Linked DNA regions of Homo sapiens. The protein of the gene in region 1 interacts with the protein of each later gene in a pairwise test. Each region holds a gene or a part of one and is shown in the gene's direction. Other genes may lie near its edges. The genes, in order: SNX24 and POU2F1.

Region 1 (4,202 bases):
CCACGAGATGACGAGTTTTTAAAAGCATGCTTGCCCTAAAACCTAGTAGGTAGGGTAGATAAATAAATCATACATACAGTGTATAGTCACCAGAGGCTTAAGGTAACCTACAAGCTGGGCTCTGAACTCAGATAGCTTATCGTCCGCAGAGCTGGTTAGTTACCTCAGGAGGTGCTGGCCAGAAGTGAAAGAAAGGTGTGTAGTCACAGGGCACAGCTAAGGCACAGTTTTGAGAGAAGGGCACATCCTGGAGCTGCAAATGTGTGAGTGCTGGGTTAGGAGGACGGATCTTCAGATGAGACTAATGTAGAGGGGTCCACATCAGGTAAGTTCCTAAAACGAGAAGCTGCCTTATCCCTCTGTTGCACGGCTCAGGGTCCCATCATAAAGTCTAGAGTTTGCTAAGCTGAAATGTCCTCTGCACTCAAGGACAAACGGAGTTAAGTGCAATTGTTTACAGTCCAAGAAAGCTCGCTGGCTGGTTTTTTCCTGGATGGCTGAGGTCACTTCTCAGTGACCTACAAGTCACGTCCACGTTTCTATTCTGCTCGGTGCGCTAACCTAAAGAAGAAACCCAACGTTTACTTGACTAACTTGATAATCAAGCCTCCCCCGCCGGGACACTTAATCTTTTAGGTACCTTCAGCCTACTAGACCCTGGTCCGAGGCACGGGTTCAGTCCTTTTTTTTTCCGTATTCTATTTTTCCCTCACAGTTAAAAAGTACTTCACAGTTAAAGGCGGCATTTTAGAACTGCAGCGTGAAGCCAGAGCGTTTGTCTTAGTGACCGGCCAACTTTCGGGCTCACTTTCGAGCTCTGTGGTACACCACCATTCTCAGATTCGACGTCTAACTCAGGAGACGCTGACCTTCGAATCGAAGGGAATTCGGAGAGTCTTGGTATAAGCCGGCTGGTTCACCGCTGTTAATGCCAGCCGAGAGGGAAAAAAAAAATTCAACCAACCAAAACAAAAGTTAAAAGCGCCACTCTTTCTATTCTTTGCTGTCTGGCAATCTCTTAATGGTGGCGTCTAGCAAACTGCAAATCAAGCTCCAGCCGGAGTCCGCAGGGCAGGGAGCGCCGGGTGCGGCCCAGTCCCCGCGCCCAGCGCGTTGGCGCGCACACCCCGTTTCTGCAGACTCAGGTTTTCTGGCCCCGCCTCTTTCGGGCCCAGCTGATCTCCACCGCCCGTTAGGCCCGAAACCCAGGCGCCTGGAGCCCTGCGCCCTCTGCTTCCGGCCCCCGGCACGCCCAGGGCGCGGGAGCGGCCGGGTCAGCCCGCAGACCTGAGTCCGGCCCGCAGCCTCGGGGCCCCGCGGGCGCAGCGGGGCGGGAGGCGGGGCGGCCCGGCCGTGGGCGGAGCGGCGGCCGCGGCCGTGAGCCTGCCCCCAACTCGCCCTCAGCCGGCTGGCCGGCGCGGCCATGGAGGTCTACATCCCGTCCTTTCGCTATGAAGAGAGCGACCTGGAGCGGGGATACACGGTAGGCGCGGGCCGCGGGCGGACAGGGCCCCGCGAGCCAGGCCTGCGGCTGCTGCGCCCAGGAAACACCCTTGGCCGCCGCCGCCTTGGCGCAGGGGGTCCCCTCGTTTTCTCTCCCCTCCCCCGGCCCAGAGGAAGGGCTGCGCCCTTGGCGCGGTTGTCAAGGAAACGGGCGCCCCTCCCGGGCACGGCGGCTGCGGGCGCCCCTAGCCCCTCGGGGTCCAACCCTCTCCTCCCGGACGAGCTGCAGTCCTCGGACGCGGCACTAGCCATTCTCCCCGCCGCCCGCCTTCGGGAGCCCAGGATGGGCTGCGTTCCTTTCTGGCACAGCTGCCCCCTCAGTCCAGACAGTAGTAGCTTCGCGGCAGATTCACGCTGGCTTCCAAGTTCTGTACAATTAGTTCAGCTGGAAAACCTGTTTTTTTTTTTTAAATCATAATTTGCAGCTGTTTATTAGCCAAACTAAACACGTGTATTGATTTTAGATGATTTCCAAAGATTTTTCTTTTTGAGTTGTGCAGTTCCATGAAATGGCAAAATTACTTGCTGAGCACCTGTTTCATACCTAGGACTGTGGTCACCGAGAAGTGTGAAACAGGACCCCTGCTCTCAAGAGTGAAGGGGAGGGCAGAGACCAGGGCATGGGCCCTTTGAGCAACACGTTTACTAAGTGAATTGTTGGTGGAGATTTCCCAATGAATTCAAAACATTCTTTCCTGGACAGTCATTGCTAGTGGGAGAAATGTCTGAGTGTGTGTACACCTTGGAAGAATTTACTTCCAGTTGTTAAAGAACCTGTAGGGTTGAAGAAAGATTGCAGGGCAGTCTGAAAGATTTGTTATTTTATTTACATCAATCACACACTTGCTAAACACCAGTTACATTACTTTGATGGAGAATATTTTAACCCCTCTCCCCTCCTCTAAATATTACTGGTATTTGGTGACAGTCTGTTTGGGCCATTGTGTTTTCTTAGTTGGGACTAAATTACCCTCTCAAAGGAAGATTTAGAATGAAAAACAGTGATTGAAAAAATAGTCCAGGAAGTCGGTGGGTTTTTAGAATTGAGTAGACTGCTGGATCCAAGTGTTCTGAAACAAGTTGTTAAAGTGCTTTCCTTGGGAAGGAAAATGCAGGGAGAGGGAGCTGTGTTCCATAGTGGTAGTTATTTATATAAATAATCCTTTCCAGTGCATTCACATTTCGTTAAATAGTCTGTATCTTCCTTAAAAACAAACAAACAAACCCTCGAGTTTGTTCAAGGCTTTTTTTTTTTTTTCTTGGAGATTTTATCCAAGTCTCTTAAGCCTAAAACCTTGCTTGTTGTTGCTTCTCCCAGGTATCTCACTTCTCCCATCAGCACTATCAACAGTCATGGAGGGCTTACCATCTTTGGGACATTCATTTAGGATCTGAAGATAAAAAGGCTGCTTGTTAGAGGCGTTGGCTTTCAAAGAAAAGATGAAGTTGATCTTACCGGTTCAAGCTAAAAGTTAATTACCTGCAGAAATAAGCACTTTGAAATAGACCATAATTAAGGCTCATTGCCCATTGTTGATTTTCTTCTATTAGACGAGCTGTGCTTTTCTCCCAAAGCTTTATGTATCTTTTTATTATTTGTATTTATGACCAGGCATGTGCCACACTCCAGGTTGTGAATTAAACTGATGTGGAAGGAGCTCTTTTTTGGACAAATTCGGGAGAGTTTGAAGATTGCTTATGTGATGAGAGTTTGCTCTTTAAATATTTGCTTAAAAAAAATCCTAACTCATCCAGATTGGGAGCTAAACTGTTAAAATCTCTCTCTCTCTTTTTTTTTTTGAGACAGTCTTCCTCTGTCACCCAGGCTGGAGTGCAGTGGGGTGATCTCAGCTCACTGCAACCTCTGCCTCCTGGGCTCATGTAATCCTTCCACCTCAGCCCCTGGAGTAGCTGGGACTACAGGCACATGGCACCACTCCTGGATAATTTTTAAATTTTTTGTAGAGACAGGGTTTCTCCATGTTGCCCAGGCTAGTCTTGAACTCCTGTGCTCAAGCAAACCATCTGCCTAGGCCTCCCAAAGTGCTGGGATAACAGGCATGAGCCACCACACCCAGCCCTAAAATACCTTCTGAAGGGATTTTTTTGCTTCTGTGAGTTTGTGAAGCAGTTATTAGATACTTTTCCCCTCTGCACAACTGGTTTTATGATTGTACAGCGGTTTTTCATTCAACAAATATTTACTGAGTGCCTGCTCTGTGTCTGTATTCTGGGTGTAGGGAATATAGCAGTGAATAAGCTATGAATATAGCAGCTTAAAAAAAACCCCAGAATTTAAAAAATATTTCAGTTTCCTAAATAAGAAGCTTGTAAAATAATGTACACTTTCGTGTAAAAAATATCTTTTTACTTTAGCGATTATGTTTGTGTGAATGTGTGTTTTTAAGAGCTAGGATCTTGCTCTGTCACCCAGGCTGGAGTGCAGTGGCGCAATCCTAGCTCACAGCAGCCTTGGACTCTTGGGCTCAAGTGATCCTTCCCCCTTGGCCTCTTGAGTAGCACAGGCATAAATCACCACAACTGGCTAATTTTTGTATTTTTTGTAGAGATGGGATCTCACTATATTGCACTGGCTAGTCTCAAACTCCTAGGTTTAAGGGATCCTCCCACCTTGACCTCCCAAAGTGCTGGGATTATAGGCGCGGGCCACTGAGCCCGACCTGTGTTTGTGTTTAAAA
Region 2 (4,022 bases), on another chromosome or scaffold:
CAGGGGAGACTTTACATCACTGACTTAGATGGGGAAAAAAATGTCTTTAAAGCAGTAATCTCTTTGAAGTGGGCTGTTTTGTGATCATACAAGGACTTTGATTATAGTTGAGTTTATGTTTCTTAACACCCTGGGAAGGGCAGTAGTCATACCTTTGTTTCCAGATGAAGACCCAAAATACCAGGTCACTAATTACCTTAGTGACGGGGCCAGGAAGAAAGCCTAGAATTCTTGACTCTTATTTTCCCCATTAAACTCTCTCAACTGCCTACTTCCTAATTCTCAAGCATAGATAAGAGATGTAATAGGAGTCTCAATTTTATACTGTTATTGTCACACATTATAAGAATTATCTTGTAAATATATCTTTTTCTCTAGAATGTTTCTTTCATTTTGGAAAGAAAGAGAAATAAGTCTTTCAAAGAAGGGTCAAAATGACTATAAAAGTTTTACATTTTGTGCTGATCATAACCTCGTTTGTATGAGTAAGCATCCAGGAAAGCAGTAACTGAGAAGCACAAACCATAGAAGAGTAAAGAAAAATAAATATTTCCACCTATTTCCCCAGCTGGATTTTCGTTTTGTAAGTTCCTTTTGGTGTGTTGTCAAAATGAGACCTGCGTCTGCATGGTAATAAAGTGACTCCTCTTTTGGACTTGCAGAGGTGCCTTACTCAGTCTGAATCCAGGGACCCTGAGCGGTGCTCTCAGCCCAGCTCTAATGAGCAACAGTACACTGGCAACTATTCAAGGTCAGTAGAAGCCTTTTTCTTAATTTGGTGGCATGCACGTGTGTGTGAGTGTGTGTGTGTGTGTGTGTGTGTGTGCTTGAGACAGAGATAGAGGAAGTCTGCTTTGCTAGAGGTAAAAGTGATGGGAAAGAGTCAAATGCTGACTAACTTGTTCTTGAGAACTAAGAAAATGTCCTCGTAAAAAAGCTTTGTAAGAAAAGTATAGGTGTTAGTATGTGAGTAAAAGCAGGAAATATACTTAGTTTGGTATATGGTAAAAAACCAGAACTTTCATGCTAATATTGATCTTATGTGAGTAGACTTGAAGCCAGATTTTTTTCCCCTGATAAGTTTATCCCAAGTATTAATCTAAAACCCGTCTCTAGGCAAACTTGACCAAGTAAGACTCTCCAGTTCCCAGCTGCACTCCTGAGAAAGCTGTGCATGGGAAAGTCCTGTAATGAACAAACATTGGAACACATCAGGTGGACCTCAGGAGTGCTTTTAATTCTCATTAAGTTCTGCTCTTTTTATATCGCCGTTAGTGTAGAACATATATTCTCTTGGATTATAATGTCTCTTTTCCAAGCTCAGCTGGGTTCCTTTTGCCTTTTAGCATGTTACCCAGGGCAATATTCATTCCATATACTGAAGGGTTCCACTTGTTTAGTACCTAAGCTTTCTGTCTAAAAATGTTTACTGTTATGTGATTCAGGGAGACAATTTGAGAGACATCACTAATTAATTAGAATTTTTTTCTTAAAATAGTTTTGCTAAGAGGCTGAGGCAGGAGGATCACTTGAGGCCATGAGTTCAAGACTGCAGTGTGCTATGATCATGCCTGTGAATAACCATTGCACCCCAGCGTGGGTAACACAGTAAGACCCTGTTTCTAAAAAAAAAAAAAAAAAATTAAAGTGTTTTGTGCATAAATGAGAATTCTCAGGGCCAAAAATAACTATTAGCCAACCTAAATTAAGATTAATATTTCACAGGTAATATCTCTAACAGTGTACTAGAGAATGTTAATTACAGACAAAACCAAACCATGGCCTAGATTACCTTACATTATATTGACTTTCTGATTGACTAAATCATACCTGAATTGGTTAGCTCTAAAGCTTTTGTTATATAATAATTTTTTTTTGCAATAGAATTTGTGATAAATCACTTTTTCTTCTGCTTTATTGAATGTTTCTGTGCTGTGTTGATACTACAAAGGCAAAATGTCTTCCCTAGGGCATGATTGACACTCTGAAAAGATACTAAGTTTGGAATCTCAGAAAAACTTCAAGCTGCACTGTCTCACTGTTCTGTACTATTTGTATGAGCAAGGCCAAAGTCAGAGGCATTCCCTTCAGCTATATTTTATGTAAGAAATCAAATGTGTAATGCCGTTAGAAAATCCCTCAAATCTACATGTAGGAGTGAGGTTATATGGCTAGAGAGATTTAGGAATGTTGCCAGACAACAGGTTGAGATACTAAATGAGAGTCTCGATTATTTTAAATAAAATGTTGATGATGCCTTCTTTGGGGAAGCAACAGCATCATAGAAAATTTCTCACCCATTAAAGCACATCCTAGACTTAGATCACCCACCTACATCATTATGTCTAATTTCCTGCTACAATAGATTCATCATTCTCCTTTGCACAAGTCATAGAAATCAAGTATTTAGCCTCAGGAAGTGAGAAATTAATTATACCTTTTAACTTTATTTGGTGATACATAATTTATTTTAGAACTAAAGCCTTTTTGCAAGATGATTTTCATCTTGTATATCATAATATAAAGCAGTGGTCCCCAACCTTTTTGGCACCAGGGACTGGTTTTCTGGAAGACAGTTTTTCCATAGCCACATTGTGGTGGCGTGGTTTCTGGATGACACTGTTTCCACCTCAGATCGTGCTCTATGAGAATCTAATGCCGCCACTGATCTAACAGGAGGCAGGCCTCAGGCTGTAATGCCCACCACTCACCTCCTGTTGTTAATGCTTTAATCACTTCAGCTAGTTTGTCCTTTGAACAGAGGTAGTTTAAAATCAGCAGTCTTCATTAAAGACAAAATTATTGGATTTATCAAATATGTCTAGGTAAATGAAATAAACTGGTGATTTCAAGACACGAACATGACTCTAATTCATTAGACAGTTATTAGCTGTCTTCTACCCCTGCTTGTGCCCATTAAATTAGACATTTCAGTCTTTTAGGCTCTTCAAAATTAAAAATAAACTACAATTGGTATCAATATAGCACTGTGTTTGAGGAAAAAAATTCAGTGAAGGGCTATACTTTTTCCTGGTGGGTTGTAGGAAAATGATAGACTTTTGATGTGTTATTTGGCTTCTCCAGGATGATGTTAATGTTTTCATTCCTGCCTGTTTTGGGGGGTTTTTGTCTGTAGCTCTTGCTTCTGGTGGCTCTCTTCCAATAACATCACTTGATGCAACTGGGAACCTGGTATTTGCCAATGCGGGAGGAGCCCCCAACATCGTGACTGCCCCTCTGTTCCTGAACCCTCAGAACCTCTCTCTGCTCACCAGCAACCCTGTTAGCTTGGTCTCTGCCGCCGCAGCATCTGCAGGGAACTCTGCACCTGTAGCCAGCCTTCACGCCACCTCCACCTCTGCTGAGTCCATCCAGAACTCTCTCTTCACAGTGGCCTCTGCCAGCGGGGCTGCGTCCACCACCACCACCGCCTCCAAGGCACAGTGAGCTGGGCAGAGCTGGGCTGCCAGAAGCCTTTTTCACTCTGCAGTGTGATTGGACTGCCAGCCAGGTTAATAAACTGAAAAATGTGATTGGCTTCCTCTCGCCGTGTTGTGAGGGCAAAGGAGAGAAGGGAGAAAAAAAAAAAAAAACCACACACACCCATACACACATACCAGAAAAAGAAAGAAAGGATGGAGACGGAACATTTGCCTAATTTTGTAATAAAACACTGTCTTTTCAGGATTGCTTCATGGATTGGAGAACTTTCTAACCAAAAATTAAAAAAAAAAAAAAAAAAAGAAACAAAAAAATCAAAAACAAACAAAAATAAGTGAAAGGACTACTTATCATTTCCAGCAGTCATGATGACAAGTTAAGGTGGGTTACCAATTCCAATATAGGAAGGGGATTTCTTGTTTGTCTAAATTTCTTTTTTTCTTAAAAAAAAAAAATCATTTTTATGGGTCTGTTGTACAGGCCATTAAGTCATAACAAGGTGTTTATAATCGTATCAATTGTGTTGGGGGTTCCTTTCTTAACTGGTACAATTTAGGCAGGCCTGTATTACTGTATTATTA

Evidence for each region.
Region 2: the proteins of SNX24 (region 1) and POU2F1 interact in binary tests that used the Homo sapiens proteins (3 or more experiments, as listed by UniProt).

The regions. Positions count from the first base shown.
Region 1 is NC_000005.10:122,844,211-122,848,412, forward strand, and holds the start of SNX24 (sorting nexin-24), read left to right. Parts: upstream 1-1,402; 5' UTR 1,403-1,423; coding exon 1,424-1,483; intron 1,484-4,202. UniProt on the Homo sapiens protein: May be involved in several stages of intracellular trafficking.
Region 2 is NC_000001.11:167,412,364-167,416,385, forward strand, and holds part of POU2F1 (POU domain, class 2, transcription factor 1), read left to right. Parts: intron 1-662; coding exon 663-751; intron 752-1,498; coding exon of another isoform or gene 1,499-1,515; exon of another isoform or gene 1,516-3,136; coding exon 3,137-3,447; 3' UTR 3,448-4,022. UniProt on the Homo sapiens protein: Transcription factor that binds to the octamer motif (5'-ATTTGCAT-3') and activates the promoters of the genes for some small nuclear RNAs (snRNA) and of genes such as those for histone H2B and immunoglobulins.